2 separate regions of the Homo sapiens genome follow, and region 1 is linked to region 2. The links come from fine-mapping of genetic effects on gene expression. A gene starts in region 2. The other region holds a variant in brackets. All regions are shown on one strand. Distances are from middle to middle. Region 1 overlaps LTBP2 (latent transforming growth factor beta binding protein 2). Region 2 holds the start of DLST (dihydrolipoamide S-succinyltransferase).

What was found. PIP is the estimated chance that this variant, and not a neighbour inherited with it, causes the effect.
Region 1: its variant is fine-mapped to the expression of DLST in whole blood (INTERVAL, PIP above 0.99).

What each region holds. Positions count from the first base shown.
Region 1 is chr14:74,603,272-74,611,271 of GRCh38, reverse strand. LTBP2 (latent transforming growth factor beta binding protein 2) reads left to right here. Exons shown (of 36, transcript NM_000428.3): 2 at 7,567-7,637. Among named protein-coding and RNA genes, the nearest start is that of LTBP2, 5.0 kb to the left of the region's middle. The variant G/TG (reference allele first, on the strand shown) is at 4,415.
Region 2 is chr14:74,877,064-74,885,584 of GRCh38, reverse strand. DLST (dihydrolipoamide S-succinyltransferase) reads right to left here and starts at 3,669. Exons shown (of 15, transcript NM_001933.5): 1 at 3,569-3,669; 2 at 2,961-2,994. The coding sequence starts at 3,631. RefSeq lists silencers at 3,325-3,654, 3,511-3,737.

The sequences.
Region 1 (8,000 bases), 270 kb after region 2:
AGAGTTGAAGGCAGATAGATCATCATCCTCATCCTTTCTTACCAACTCTCCCGGAGCCCCGACGTTAAATCCTTTCGCAAGGCGCCTCTCCACTCGCCCGCGTTCCTCCTGCCTGCAACTAACGAGCTCTTGTAGACTCTTGCAGCGCTGCCGGGATCTGAGAGGCAGCGGGGAGAGGGCAGGAGGGTGGGCGCTCCAGGCTCTTGACGCCCAGGGGAGGTTGAGCTGGCTCAGAGCGCGGGTTGGCGGAGGTGTCGGGGGCCCCATGGAGAGAAGGTAGATGCGTCTCCAGGAGGGGAGCCGGCAGCGAAGCTGGTGCGTCGGGACAAGTGTCGTGGGGCGTGGGTCGGCCTGCGCACGCTGAGGGCTGGATGCGGGCGTGGGCGTGAGCTCTGGGTACTTTGGGCGGGAAGCGTGTCCTGATGAGGCTGCGACACAGTGGGCGCGTGGAGAATTGGATCAGTGTGCTCTTGTGCATCTAGGTGTAAGCGTGACTTGGGCGCGTTGCAGGGCTAAGCCACCGCACAACCCTGCAATTTACTTTTTTGCTCCCCCTGGGCACCACCCCCTGCCCACCGCGGGCGCCGTCGCAGAGTGAGAAGATGCCCCAGTAATCCCCATCCCCAATCGGATCATCATGGCTGCGGGCACGCTCCGCCTTGCCTGGGTATGGCAGGTGCCTCTGGAATGGAGGGCACTGAGCCCTGGGCAGTGAGGGGCTGGGTGGGGGCACCATCGGGAAGTCTGGGAAGGGCTTTGGCAGCCTCTCTTTGCCTGGGCCCGATTTGCCAGTTGGGTTTAGTCCTGGGGAACAGCATGAAAGACACTTGTACCCCGAGTCCTACTCCAAGGACCTTGCACTTCGCAGCCTTGGCGCTCTGTTTTCCTTGGCGCTCTGTTTTCCTTGGCTGGAGCGCTCTTCTCATATTTCAGCAGGATTGAGCTCTGTCTCTTTCAGATTTCTGCTCAGAGTGACTTTTGGCCACCCGTGCCCCATCCTCTTTCTCCTTTCACCCTGCTTTATGTTTCTTCATAGTACTTATTCTATCTGATATGTTCTATTCCTATTTATGTGTTTATGGCCTGGCCTCCCAGCCCACACTAATGCAAGCTCTATGCAAACAGGGACTTCGTTGTGTCCATTTCTGTGTCTCTTGTGCCTAGAATAGTGCCTGCACTGGTTGGTATTCTCTAGGTATCTGTTGAATGAGTGGATGAACTCCCTGCTGCCCATGGAAGGCCCAGCTTCAAGCAGGCAGAGAGTAGACCCATGCACTGCCAAGTCGCTTACACATAGGATCATTCAACAAGTCTTAGTGGAAAGCACCTGCTGTGTTTCAGCGTTTTCCTTTCCTGATCTGTGCAAGTGAATGCATGCTTCCAAGGATCCTGCGTGCAGAGCATGGGAAAGGGGATGGAGGCCCAGAGTCCAAGGCATTGTTCCTGCTGGGAGAGCAACCCAATTACTTAATATCACGTTGAAGAAATGAACAGATGCTTTCTAGTACTGGAAGGTTCCTGTTAAGTGCAAAGGAGTGGGGCAACTGTAGCTGAAGAGCTGAGTAGAGGGGACCTGTGACCTGGGGCCCCTGGGGCTCTGTGGGCAGCATGTGGGGAAGCAGAGGGGAGGTGGCAGGAGGGGGGCCTGGAGGTGAGGGTGGTGTGCAGATGTAGCACTGCCCAAGGACAAGGGCTTTTTACTGTTGGCACTGGCCCAGGGGTAGCACTGCAGCTTTGGTGTAGGGGAACCTAGAGACATAGCTTGGGCTGGAGCAGGGAGGAGCTTGTACTGCAGGCATTTAGGTGCAGGTGAGGTGCGGGGGAAGGTGGGGAAGTGGAGCGTGGGGGCTGGAGGGTGCACTATTAGAAGTCATGAAATAAAGCGAATTGTCACTACAACAAAGCTGGTGGATGTGAACAGGCATGTGAAGACATGGGCTGGGTGCCACCTGCTGTACACAGGTGCACACATCACATGACACACTGGTCAGGCTCCTCCCCCACATTGTCTTCTGCAGCTTTGATAAAGAGTGGGTTCCCTGACACTCCAGTCAGCCACTCCATGTCAGCTGGGGAGGACCTGAGGGGTCATCTTGTTTATTCTCTTCCTCCACCCTGGTCCATTCTGGCTAATGGCTTCTAGTCAGGCTGATCAGGTTGGCCATTCATTGCCTTGTGAGCTGCAGACAGCCAGGGACCAAGTGCCACCTCCTGGTGAATCTTGGAACTGCACCACTGCTACTGGAGCTTCTTCATTCATTCGACAAATATTTTGGAAGAACTTCTATACCCAGGCCCTATACTGGATCTTGAGGATATAGCAGTGACCAAGACAGGCATACTCTGTCCTCATGGAACTTTCAATGTAGAAAAGATTTATTGCACATAATAAAGACTTATTAAGTTTGTGCCAGGCTTGATGCTAGGTATTTGGGATACAGCAGTGACCAGAGTGGACACCGTCCCTACGCTAATGAAATTTACAGTCTACAGGGTTTCTTTTTCATTTCTTTTCTTTTCTTTATTCTTTCTTTCTTTTTTTCTTTTTTTTTTTTTCTTTTTTTTGAGATAGAGTCTCTTGCCCTGTCACTCAGGCTGGAGTGACATTATTTCGGTTCACTACAACCTCCACCCCCGAGGCTCAAGCAATTCTCGTGCCTCAGCCTCCCTAGTAACTGGGATTATGGGCGCACGTCACCACACCCGGCTAATTTTTTGTATTTTTAGTAGAGATGGGGTTTCGCCATGTTGGCCAGGCTGGTCTCAAACTCCTGAGCTTAAGCACTACACCCACCTTGGCCTCCCAAAGTGCTGGGATTACAGGTGTGAGCCACCACGCCTGGCCTCTATAGGGTTTTTTGAACCAGCCTCACAGCAGACCACCTGTATAATATTTTTCTCTACCTTTCCCTCTTGTTCTGTTATTATTTTTCTTTAACTTTATATTCTGTTAAAATAACAGGATTTTGTGTTTTATCTGTTTTAAAGTATATTATGAAGTTTTATAAATGCACTAAAAGGTATTGAAAATAATATAACATAGTCTAGTTTTGGCCGGGCGCGGTGGCTCATGCCTGTAATCCCAGCACTTTGGGAGGCTGAGGCGGGTGGATCATGAGGTCAGGAGATCGAGACCATCCTGGCTAACAAGGTGAAACCCCGTCTCTACTAAAAATACAAAAAATTAGCCGGGCGCGGTGGCGGGCGCCTGTAGTCCCAGCTACTCGGGAGGCTGAGGCAGGAGAATGGCGTGAACCCGGGAAGCGGAGCTTGCAGTGAGCCGAGATTGCGCCACTGCAGTCCGCAGTCCGGCCTGGGCGACAGAGCGAGACTCCGTCTCAAAAAAAAAAAAAAAAACATAGTCTAGTTTTATCAAACCTTAATATTTTGACATATTTTGATTCCAGTTTTTTAGTTGAAATTTCCTCTATAAATTTGCCTCCTTCCCTCCCCAGAGTTAACCACTACCCTGAATTTAATTAATTCCAATAGATGTTTTTACAATATTACTATAGATACATGTATCCACAAAATATACAATGTTGTTTTGCATATTTTAAACTTAGATAAGTGAGACCCTATTTCATTATTCTTCTGCAATTTGTTTTTCCCCTCCTCATTAGATTTTTGAGATTTAACCATGTTAATATAATTAGCCCAAGTTTATTCATTTTAACTGTTGTATATTATTCCTTTGTCTGAATATTACCACAGTTTATCCATCCTCCTGTTTTTGGACATTTAGATGAATTACTTTTTCTAAAAGTAATTTTCTAAAAATTCTACTGAATTTTTTTGCTATTACAGACAGTGCTTGACTCATTTTTCTCCATAAATAAATTCATAACTGAAAGGAAACTTTGTATCATTATCATAAGTTGAAAGCAGTACCACTTGTTATAAAGAGAAGATAACTGTAGGAAAATTGAAATGAAAACAAAATGTTCTTAAGTTCTAGTCAGACTTCATTCATTGTCTTAGGAAGCTCAACTCTGTGGCAAGTTCCCTCTATTGGAAGGGGGACTAGCGTGTGTTGAGGGGAGGACGTGGCCTTTTTCACTGACATCATTAGGTTAGAAGGATCACCAAAAAGAGAATCACTTTCTCACCATGTAACTCAGATTGTTGAATGTTGTGATCTGTAAACTTAAAATGCCTTTCCTACCCTCAGTGGCTCATCCCACTTTTTGTGAAACTCCAGATTAAATGAAACAAGTATCAATTGTATACCACATGTTGGGCACTGTGTTAGACTGTAGAGGCACAAGGAGAAATAAGAAAGAAACCTCTAGATACCCAAGACTGAGATACAACCAATGACCTGAGACAGGCAGTACTAAGTGATCACAGCAGATGCAGATGGAGAATGAGGGAAGGCTGGGTAGATGTCAGAGGAGGTGGGTTTTTTTTTTTT[G/TG]TTTGTTTTGTTTTTTGAGATGGAGTCTTGCTCTGTCGCCAAACTGTAGTGCAGTGGCACAATCTCTGCTCACTGCAGCCTCCGCCTCCTGGGTTCAAGCAATTCTTCTGCCTCAACCTCCCGAGTGAGTAGCTGGGACTACAGGTGCTTACCACCATGCCCAGCTAATTTTTAGTAGAGACGGGGTTTCACTGTGTTGGCCAGGATGGTCTCAATTTCCTGACCTTGTGATCTGCCCACCTCAGACTCCTAAAGTGCTGGGATTACAGGTGTGAGCCACCTTGCCTGGCCCAGGGGAGGTTTTATACAAAGAAGGTAATATCTGATCTGGAAGTCTTGGAGTATGCAAAGGATTTTAATCAGTAGACCAGAGAGGAAAGGCATTCTAGGCAGAGAGAGCAGCCCAGGCAAAGGCATCGAAGTGAAATCCATAGGGTAACTGGGGAGCAACAAACCTTGTATCCTTGGAGGAGCAAAGCCTTGGCTGTGGATGGTTGTGGAGACAAGGTGGGGGTGATGGGGACAATTAGACTGCACAGGAAAGTAGGCACATGGGTGCCAGGGGGCCTTGTAGAGGCCAGTGGAGAGCTGTGGGAGGTTTTTAACAAAGGGCTAGTGTGATCAGATTTGGCCCAGGTGGAATAGCAGCTCTCCCAGACTGCTAGCCAGATGTGTTCCCTACAGTGATGCTGGATACTGGGCTAATGTGTGCTGAGTGGTGTCAACTGGAAGACTGGACTCAGATGATCTCTGAGAGGTACCTTCTAGGGAGTCAGAGTGATTGAATTATATATCCCAGCTGTTCAGGCTCATTTGCTCTCTCTGCTAGCCAGAGCCCACTGAACTGACAATTCCCAGAATTCCCAGCTGGTTACCTCCCTGGGCCTGCACCCAAAACTTTAATATTGGCCTGTAGGGATCCTTAGAGACTCTCCTTGGGGACCTGAATCTCTCTTGAGTGCCCTACCAGCCCCAGCCTGGCCTCTCTGCCTGGCAGCCTTTGATTCTGGCCAATCCTCACGTGGCCTTACATCCCTTAGGGCCTACTCTGTGCAGGCAAAGCAAGGTTGGCCCCTGCCCTCCCACAGTCAGCTGCAAAGCCATCCTGAGGGCAGCTGGGGTGACGGCTGGCTCAGGGGGCCTCCTTGGGCTGGGCTCCATGCCATGACCTCCCAGCCAGGCAGGCTCCTGCGTCCGTGCTGTCTGGGTTCCCACAGGCCCTAATTCTTAGAAAATTCCCAGGGCACAGAATCTGTTTCCTCTCAGAGCCCTCCTAGCCCCACGAGAGGTCTTGTCACCACCACAAGGGGTGGTGACATAAAAGTGGGTACGTAGTTTCCCCTTCCACTGGGGCGCACCCCCGGAAACTCTGGGTCTGACAAGCAGCCCTTTCCCTGACCCCCGTGACATGGGCCCTGATGCAGCCAGGAAGCTGCTAACGGTGGTCGCCCAGAGAGGCTTTGAGGTGGCCCAAGTGGCACAACTCTTGGCTGGTGGGACATTCTGGGAGCTCCCTGGGAGGGAGGCAGTGCCCACAACTTTGGGCCAAAGGGCCAGGAATGGGCCTCCGCTTTTTCAAGCTGCAGGAATTTATTTTGAATTCTTCGTAAGACTCCAAAAACCACATAAGCTTTGGGGTCCACTCAAATGTCAAACAAACTCCTAAGTGGGACCAGATGTCGCCATGCTGGCCACAGAGATCACAGGAGTGGCCGCCCTGCTCTGTCCTTTGCCTGTCCAGCCTCTGCACTTCTCCCTCCCCTCTTACCCTCTAGTTCCAGTGCCCGGTGATGATTTCCAATGATAAGGATGGAAGCCAGAGCCCGGCCCAGCCTGCCAAGGAGTCAGTCCCTAGAGATCTCCAGGAGAAGCCCTTCTAGGGAGACGCCCTGGTCTAGGCATGTGGGTCTTTAGCTGCAGAGTCAGGGCCGGGTGGAAACTGCTGGTGCTGCTGGAGTGCGCCAGACACCCGGAAGCAAAGTTTGGGGAGCTGAGTGAATGCCCCAGCACTGTAGGTCAGCGTCTCATGGGGGTGCCCTCAGAGCCAACATCAAGGAGTAGCTGAAGGGCTGGGCGCAGTGGCTCACACCTATAATCCCAGCACTTTGGGAGGCCGAGGTGGGTGGATCACCTAAGCTCAGGAGTTTGAGACCACCCTGGCCAACATGGTGAAACCCCATCTCTATTAAGAATATTTTTAAAATTAGCCAGGCATGGTGGCAGGACTGAGGTTGCCATGAGCCGAGATCACGACATTGCACTCCAGCCTGGGCGATATAGTGAGACTCAAAAAAAAAAAAAAAGGAGTAGTTGATGGAAGAACTCTATTTCGCTATAGAGTAAGTCCTGTTTGCCTCTCAAATAAAAATTGTGCCTCCACATAAAAATTGTGCAGAGGCAGCTTAACCCACATCCCCAGCCCCATCCTCCTACCAGCTTGCCACCTTGTAAGCACCTCTTAACCAGGGATTCTAGAGCCCTGTTCCTTCAGTGCCCACTCAGGGCTCAGCCTTCCCACGCACCAGACTGCCGGGGGCTGAGACTCCTCAGTGTGCATTCGTTGGCAGGTAACACCTCGTATGACCTTGAGACTGTTTTATGTGTGTCTTCCAGCCTCCCTTGGATCGTCAGCATTGGTAGGGCAACGACCATGGTGTTTTTTTGTGTGTGTGGTTTTTTTTTTTTTTTTTTTTGGTGAGAGGCAATGTAGAGTTGGAGCATGGCTTAGAGTTGGGCCAACCCAGGTTTGAATCAGGCTCTGGCACTTACCTGCTGTGTGGAATTGGCAAGTCACTGAACCTCTCTGAAGTGGCTTATTAGCTTTAGGATCACTGTCATTGTTGCCCCAGTGGACTGCCTTCTTTATGTCAGATGTTAAACATTCTCACCTCATTTAACCATCATAACAACTCAATTAAGCAGCTATTGTTATCTCCATTGTACAGATGGAGAGAGTGAGGTTTCCCAGGGATGTGCAGAGAATGGCAGAGTCAGGATTCAATCTTAGATTTGCAAGTAGAATAGGGACAGCCTTCCCAGCCTCTCCATGTTCCTCCAGGCCCTGCCTCTAGAAGGTGGGACTGTCGGAGGGGCTGTGAATAGTCCCCAGCTCTGAGCATCCTTGTGTTGACTCTGTTTTGGTGACCCCACAGGAGGAACGTCTGCGGGGGACAGTGCTGCCCAGGATGGACAACAGCAAACAGCACCAACCACTGTATCAAACGTGAGTGCCTCCACCAGTAGCAGACACTCCGCTCTATCAAACGTGAAGTGCCATTCCCCACCCTACTCCCAGGGCAGGTCAAGCTTAGGTACTCCAGAACCTGGAGCAGAAGCGTCTTTCCTAGTCTGCGTCCTGAAGATGCAGCCCCTATTTAAAGTGGAGGCAACATCCAATGGAAGGGAAGAGGTTTAAAAATGCCTCTAGCTGGGGCCGGGAGCGGTGGCTCATGCCTGTAATCCCAGCACTTTGGGAGGCCAAGGTGGGTGGATCACTTGAGGTCGAGAGTTGGAGACCAGCCTGGTCAAGATGGTGAAACCCTGTCTCTTCTAAAAACACAAAATTAGCCAGGCGTGCTGATGGGTG
Region 2 (8,521 bases):
TGCAAGAAACAAAATAACTCTTAACCAACAACTCTTATCTCACAAAGGATACATGCTGGGAATGGAAAAGGTCTGCTCACCCCCAACCCTGAGACAGAGCAGGATCAACGGCAACGGATATAATCTTTATCATAGAGTCCTGCTTCTCAAACTTTTCCAAAGTAGCCTTAGTGGCAGAGAGCAAATGGGTATGTGAGATCGAGTGGGTATGTGTTTGGCTGGGGAGGAAAGAGAAAAAATTTGATGGCACAGCCCAAAGTGATTATATAATCTCATCTACCTTAAAAAGCCAGAACTTTTCATTATTCCTGTATGTTTTCATAATAAAATGTCTCTACTCGCCAAGTCTTCAAATACAACTGAAGCTTGAGAAAGACATGGGATGGCTTATCCTGTGACTATACATAACCCAATTTGAGAAGCAAGGAGGATGTTTGGTCTGGGTTTGAAAAGATTGGGTTGGAAATCTTATCACCTGAATCCTAGTAGCAAAGACTTGGCTACTTTAGGCTCGGGGTCTCCAGTTTGTCCTAGAGCTGAGAAAATCATGTCCCCATCTTTCAGTTTATTGACTTCCCATGCCTTTCTGAAGTCTTCCACCCTGGTCACTCTCAACAAGGTGAGAGACCCTTTCTGCCCACCAGCTGTCCTTATCATAGTTAACTGCATTTCCCCAACTGATGACTAGTAACTACAGCTGCCTCTTCTGAATTCTTTCTTATGTCTTTTTTCTTTCAGATTAACAACTCTTTCTGAACCATGGGCTCAGGACACACCAAATGAGAGCTAGCCCTCTCTTATGCCCACCTCCTCACAAGCATCCCAAGATAGGTAAGCCAGTCACCTTTATGTCCAGCAGCCAATGACTATGCAGTGCAAATTCTAAGCATAGTATGTTTTTGAACTAGAATAGATGGCGGCTCACACTGATTTTGGGAACCTGGAGTCCAATTCAGAGTTCATCCTACAGCAAATTTCATTTGTACAGTGCTTTAGGGTTTATAAAAAGCTTTCCCATAATGACCTCATTTTGATTTTACAGTCTCACAACTCTCTGAAGTGGAACGACCATCTGCCATTATTCCCATTTCATATAAGTAGGACTTTTGGAGGTTAAGCGACTAGCCCAAGGTGAATCCCTGAGCCCAAATGCAAATCCCCAAGTGCAAGGCTCTTTCCATTGTCCTGCCCACCTATGAAGTGGAGAAAATGTTTACTGACATTGTTCAGGGTTCCCACTTGAAAAACATGTTTGTTATTGAGAGTCCACTACAAGCCGACATTGTGCTAGGGGCTTTATGTTCTCATAACTCTCAGGATAAAGTCCACACTTTACGCGATCCTGTACCGTCCAGCCCACTCTATCTTTCCTGCCAGACAGGCTTCTTCCCATGTCTATCACTGGTCAAGTCCTTTCCTGTCTGAAAACCTTTGCACAAGCAATTCCCTTTGCCTGGAATACATTTTCTTGGCTCTTTTATATTCAGGTCTCAGTTAAATGTCACTTCTTCAGGGAAGCCTTTACTGACATTCCCAACCTTCCCAAGCTGGTCTACATCATCCCACCCTCTCATCACACCCTTTAATTCCTCTCTCGTAGTAACCAAAATTTATGCCCTTGTCGGAGCATAAATGTATATTTGCTCTCTCTCTCCAGCTAGCCCATAAAATCTCGAGGCTAGAGTCTATCTATACCCCTGTTACCTAGAACAGTGGCTGGCATATAGTAAGCACTCAATAAATGATCTGTTGAGTCCATGAGTAAATGAGAACATGGTGGGTTAAGAGTTCAGGATGGGTCAGGTAGACCTGGCTTATCAACAGCTGGGTGGGTGACCATGGCCAAGGCTTTTAAGCTCTCTTGTCTTGGGTTATGCATTTGTAAAATAGAGAAAATACTTTTTACTGTTTTGAGATGATTAACTAAAAAATTCACAGAAAGCACTCATATAAATGCTTGGCACAAAGAAAGCCCACAACAAGGTCAACTCATTCAACAAATACTTAGGCTAGGCATATAACAGAAAAAAAGCTATGGATGACACTTTTTTCTTTTTAACTGCTAGGATAAAATCTAAACTCCTTCAGTCTCTATACCATCTTCTATCTCTTGCCACTCTCTCCCTTAACCAAAATACTCCGGCCAAATCACCTTTTTTCCAGCTCTTAAGTTCTGCCAACCTCTTTTCTTCCTCAGGGTCTTTGTGAATGCCATTCTCTTTCTCCTGGGCTTCACTGGGTTAGCTCCGTCACATTCTGCTAGCCATAACTTTTTTTTTTTTTTTTTTTTGAGATGGAGTCTCGCTCTGTCGCCCAGGCTGGAGTGCAGTGGCGCGAACTCGGCTCACTGCAAGCTCCGCCTCCCGGCTTCACGCCATTCTCGTGCCTCAGCCTCCCGAGGAGCTGGGACTACAGGCGCCTGCCACCACGCCCGGCTAATTTTTTGTATTTTTTAGTAGAGATGGGGTTTCACCGTGTTAACCAGGATGGTCTCGATCTCCTGACCTCGTGATCCGCCCGCCTCAGCCTCCCAGAGTGCTGGGATTACAGGCGTCAGCCACCGCGCCCGGCCATGGCCATAACTTTTAAGTCACCTCCTCAAAAAGGGCTCTTCTGTCCACCCTCGTTTCCTTCTCAGCAGTTACAAAAATTTGCCTTTGTTGGCTTGTTTAGCAACTGACACTATCCAACTAGCCTAGGAGCTCCACGAGGGCAAGAACTGTACACTTCTGTATCCACTCCTGTATCCCTAGCGTCTAGCACAGTGCCTAACACAGTAGAAACTCAACTACGAGCTAAATGAATAAGCGATAGCTCGTGATTATGTAGCATTGCGTCTCACTACTCTCTGAACCAAACTGTCTTTAAATATTATGAGAAACACAGGCACCCCCGAGTTCCTCACATACTGCTCTGCCCAGGAGGAGAGCATTTTAGGTGACGGTAAGGGCAGAACTTACCAGGCAGGGAACGTCTCCCTAGAGGGCAGTTCCCCTGTTGAGAAAGAAGACATTATCGACGTCACCCAAGATGAAAAAAAAACCCAGCTTTTTCTTTTAAGTACACGCTCAAAGCTGTCCCAGTGGTGGTGACAGGTGAATCTCGTAACTCCGAAGGTAAATGCAACACACCGTGCTGGCAGACCCAATCAACACGCTGGGCCTGCCAAACTATCTCAACTTCCCAACGGGACTCATTAATACCCACTGATTTTAACAGAGCAAGACGAGACGGGCGCCGAATCCCGCCGGAGGACTCCGCCGCGCCTCCTCCCTAACTCTGAGTCAAGTATCTGGACGGGCGCGGCTCCCCAGCTCCCGCGCGGAGGGTGGGGTACAGCAGGAAACGTTCCCCGCAGGCTGCCTGGAGAAGGCAGGGGGCCGCTGGGCTCCGCAAAACGGTCCCGAGGGCAACCACGGCCCCGGGCCGCCCAGCCCGCGCGGCCTCCGCGTCCCAGTGCCCTTGGTGCCCGGCCCGGCCGGCGCGCCGCGCCCCTGCCTTCCAGGCCGCCTCTCTGCCCGCCAACAGACTCCTCACCCGTCGGGGCCCCGGCTCGGCCAGACCGTACCTTCTGGAAGGCGGAGAGCGAGCGGCTGAACGCCCGAGACACACAGCGGGATCGGGACAGCATCACGGCGGAGGAGCCGAGGGCGGGCGGACACCGGATATAGGGCCGGACAACAACCGGAAGTGGGGCGGGCCGCAGTACCCGCCGCCCGACGAGGGGTGTTCGGAGCGAACCACTGGCAGGGGGTGGGCGCACGGCGGCGCCCAGTATCCCGGCTGCAGCGCAGGAGTCCCGCTCTCTGGAGCAGGCAACCCTAAGGCGCTCTTGGGGCCCTCCGCACTGCCTGTCAGCCTGAGGTGGTTCTCCTGAAGGTGTATACGACTGTCCCGCCACCACATTGCCCCCGGGGTCAGGCCTTCCCCTACCCTTCCACAGAACTGGCTCTGAGCTTGGCGCCCTTCTCTCTTGGGACCCGAGGGCACCGCGCCGTTCCGCCTCTGTACCTTGGGAAGAGAGCAAAAGAGGGGCACGGACATTGAACTGAAACCTTGGCAGACATGCATGCCTGATCTTACACTTGTGTGGCCTGGGGCAGATGACATTGCCCCCCACCCCCAGTCTCAGGTCCCTTAACTATTAAAAAAAAAAAAAAAGGCACTTGTTACTTCCCTGTCTTCCTAACCCCGAGTCAAAGAAACAGAATCCCAGGAATTTCTAAATCCCATTGCCTTTTTACGAGTCGGATATCTTCACCAACTATAGCCTTATTTCTCAACAGCTTCTGATCTCCCCCCAACGCAAATTCCAGCCAAACTAATTGTTCCCCATACATCTTGTGCATTTTGGAAGTTGTTCGTTTGTCACCCTATCCCTAGAATATAAACTCCCAGCTGTTTTTTTAAGAAACAAGGTCATAGTTCACTGGAGCCTCGACACTCTGGGCTCAAGCGATCCCTCTGCCTCAGCCTCTGGAGTAGCTGGGACTACAGGTGCCACCATGCCAGGCTGACCTCCCCACTTTGAGTGTGCCATTCTTCCCGCTGACTTGAAGTGAAAGCATATAGCATCCCCTTCCCCTCCTTAAGTATTCAGGCCCCTTGAGTATTCACCTTTAAGGCTCACCTTCCTAATGAAAAAGATGTGCTTTAAACCTCTGGCTGAATTAGTAACACATAAATGTATGAATGAATGAATGAACCACTTGGTGCCGTTCATGATGATTTCTTTATCTGAGGCATTTTGCCTGGCCCTCAGGACCTTTATTTTTTATTTTTCTAATTAATTTATGTTTTAATATAAATTGAGACGGGGTCTCACTATGTTGCCCAGGCTGGCCTCAAATTCCATCAGGACCTTTACAGTGCCTTCACTCACCTGAACCCTGAAAGCACTGCCACTGAAATTCTGGAAGGATGGGCCAAAGTCCTAACTAGAAATAGAGAAAACAGCTCTGCCCTGCTGCTACCCACAATTAACTCCTCAGTAGCTTTCACCTGAATTATTTGAAAAGCTCCCTAAGCAGTTCTAAGCCTCCGCTCTCGCTTTCTCTAGCCCATCATCCTTTATATCTGTGTCAAAGATCCTTCTGAGCCTGGTGTGGTAGCTCACGCCTGTAATCCCATCACTTTGGGAGGATGAGGTGGGTGGATCACTTGAGATCAGGAGTTCAAGACCAGCCTGGCCAACATGGTGAAACCCCATCTCTACTAAAAATACAGAAATTAGCTGGGTGTGGTAGTGAATGCCTGTAATCCCAGCTACTCGGGAGGCTGAGGCAAGAGAATTGCTTGAACCCAGGAGATGGAGGTTGCAGTGAGCCAAGATTGCACCACTGCACTCCAGCCTGAGCAACAGAGTGAGACTTCGTCTCAAAAAAAAAAAAAAAAAGAAAGTAAAGAAAAAAAAGAAATCCTTCTGAAATGCAAACCTAATCCTGTCACTCCTCTGATTAAAGTCTTTCATTGCTTCTCCTGGTCGGATAAAGCAAGGGAGATAAAGTTTATCTCCCTTGTAGGATAAAGTACAAACTCCTCAACTTGGCCAGGCACCTGATAATCAGGCCTCTGATTATGTTCTGATTCTCTCCCCACATTCTCACAGATTGTGAGCTTTAGTCAAACCACACTACTGGCCATAGCCTTGCTGAGCTATTTGCATGGGCTGTTTCCTCCTCCTATTTGCCTAGGAACTCCTAGTCATCCTTTAAATCTCCTTCTTAATCCCTTCCTAACCCCTCTGGCAGAGTTAACAGATACATTTTCTATGCTTCCAAAGCACTGTGTCTGGGTTTCTACATTGCATTTTATTGTAATGTCCTGTTTACCTGTCTGTCTCCCATGCTGCATAGAGCAGCAGGTGGAAAGAGACCACTCTCTATTTTCCTGAATTTTCCAAACACAACACCTGGGACATCAGAGTTCCTGGGACTCTGTAGGTACTCAATAAATATTTGTGGAATGACTAAATACTTCCATGTTTACAACATTGGTGGACACAGCTGAAGAATCCAAGAACGGTAGTCAGGGGCTATGGCAATTTCTTGCCAGTGTTGCTGTTAATATTTTTCTTAGATAGCTACCCAGTCCTTTCACGGTCTTTTTTTTTTTTTTTTTTTTTTTTTTTTTTTGAGATAGAGTCTTGCTCAGCTGCCCAGGCTGGAGTGCAGTGGCATGATCTCATCTTGGCTCACTGCAACCTCTGCCACTCGGGTTCAAGTGATTCTCCTGCCCCAGCCTCCCGAGTAGCTGGGACTGCAGGTGCGTGCCACCATGCCCAGCTAATTTCTGTATTTTTAGTAGAGACGGGGTGTCAGACAGGGTGTCACTGTATTTTTAGTAGAGACAGGGTGTTGGCCAGGATGGTCTCAAAATCTTGACCTCATGATCCGCCTGCCTTGGCCTCCCAAAGTGCTGGGATTACAGGCTTTCACAGTCTTTAACAATTTTTGAGATTCTTATAGAAGGTGTAGAGGCTTCAGGCTGGGCACGGTGGCTCACGCCTGTAATCCCAGCATTTTAGGAGGCTGAGGCAGGCGGATCACGAGGTCAAGAGATCAAGACCATCCTGGTTAACACGGTGAAACCCCGTCTCTACTAAAAATACAAAAAATTAGCCGGGCCTGGTGGCGGGTGCCTGTAGTCCCAGCTACTAGGGAGGCTGAGGCAGGAGAATGGCGTGAACCCGGGAGGTAGAGCTTGCAGTGAGCTGAGATCATGTCACTGCACTCCAGCCTGGGTGACAGAGCTAGACTCCGTCTCAAAAAAAAAAAGATGTAGAGGCTTCAAGACTTCAAGCCTGGTTATAATGTGGCAAAGCACTTCTGGAGTTTTAGTGATCACCCAAGTTAATCTTAGATATTACAGTCTAAAGACACCACACACACACACACACACACACACACACACACACTCGAGCATGGTTTCATACAAAATCCCATTGAGAGGGTAAAAGTTGAAATTGATTTCCTCGAGATTCACATACGAGCTTCCATGGACTCCAAGCTGCAACCCAATAAGCTAGGGCACTCCTTCATTTAGAGCTTCCCAAGACACAGCACCATCTACTGGGGCAAGAGTTTATGAATATAAATTGTGGCAGGGCTCAAAAGAGAATTTTTTTTTTTTTTTTGAGTGGAATCTCACTCTGTTGCCAGGCTGGAGTGCAGTGGCATGATCTTGGCTCACTGCAACCTCTGCCTCCTGGGTTCAAGCGATTCTCCTGCCTCAGCCTCATGAGTAGCTGGGACTACAGGCGCCCACCACCATGCCCGGCTAATTTCTGTATTTTTAATAGAGACAGGGTTTCACCATGTCGGCCAGGATGGTCTCGATCTCTTGACGTAGTGACCCCTCCACCTTGGCCTCCCAAAGTGTTGGGCTTACAGGCGTGATCCACTGTACCCGGCCCAAAAGATAATTTTTAAAAACATTTTCATTGTAAAATACGTATTAAAAAGGATATAAAAATCTATGTGTCCAGTTTAAAAGAAAAATAATAAAAGGAATTCCCATACTTGCTGCCCAGCTGAAGGAATGGAAAAGTTCCCTGTGGTCTCCTCCATCATCACACCCAGTTAGCCACTACTATACTGAATTATATATTAACCATCCCCTTGTTTTCATTATAGCTTCAATATGCTTATGTTCTATACACATTTTTGCCTGTGTTTTTAAATTAAGAAAAAGATGTCTCCAGCAGTGGTCTGATATAGAAAAAAATAAAAAATGAAAATGAAAGATGTATTTACTTTCAAATTAAATAAGAAAAAAGGTGTGTTTTTAGAAAGGATTAAGTAGCTCATTTACCTCAAATCCCCCGGTTTTCTTATGTGTGTTCTGAACCATACATTCACATCCTTGCCTATGAGTTTATGAATATTATCGGCCAGCTAGTAGATGGGGCTATAGCCTATGCTTCCATCTTTGGGCTCCTTAAAATAGGGACTATGCCCTATATTCACTCAGTGTTACCTATGATACCTAGATTCCATCTATCTGTCTATCTCTTCATTCAGTTGTAATTCAAAATAATGGACTGATGAATACACAATGAAAATCTAGACATGTTTTTGTGTGGGTATTTTTTTTTGGTCTATTTTTTAACTTAGTAGAAATGGAATCACAGTGCCTGTATCATTCTGTAACTTACTTCTTTTTTTTTTTTTTTTTTTGAGACGGAGTCTTGCTCTGTTGCCCAGGCTGGAGTGCAGTGGTGTGATCTCGGCTCACTGCAAGCTCTGCCTCCCAGGTTCATGCCAGTGTCCTGCCTCAGCCTCCCAAGTAGCTGGGACTACAGGCACCTGCCACCATGCCCGGCTAATTTTTTGTGTTTTTTAGTAGAGACGGGGTTTCACCGTGTTAGCCAGGAGGTCTCAATCTCCTGACCTTGTGATCCACCCACCTCGGCCTCCCAAAGTGCTGGGATTACAGGCGTGAGCCACTGCGCCCACCCTTTTTTTTTTTTTTTTGTAATGGGGTCTCACTCTATCGCCCAGGCTGGAGTACAGTGGTGCAA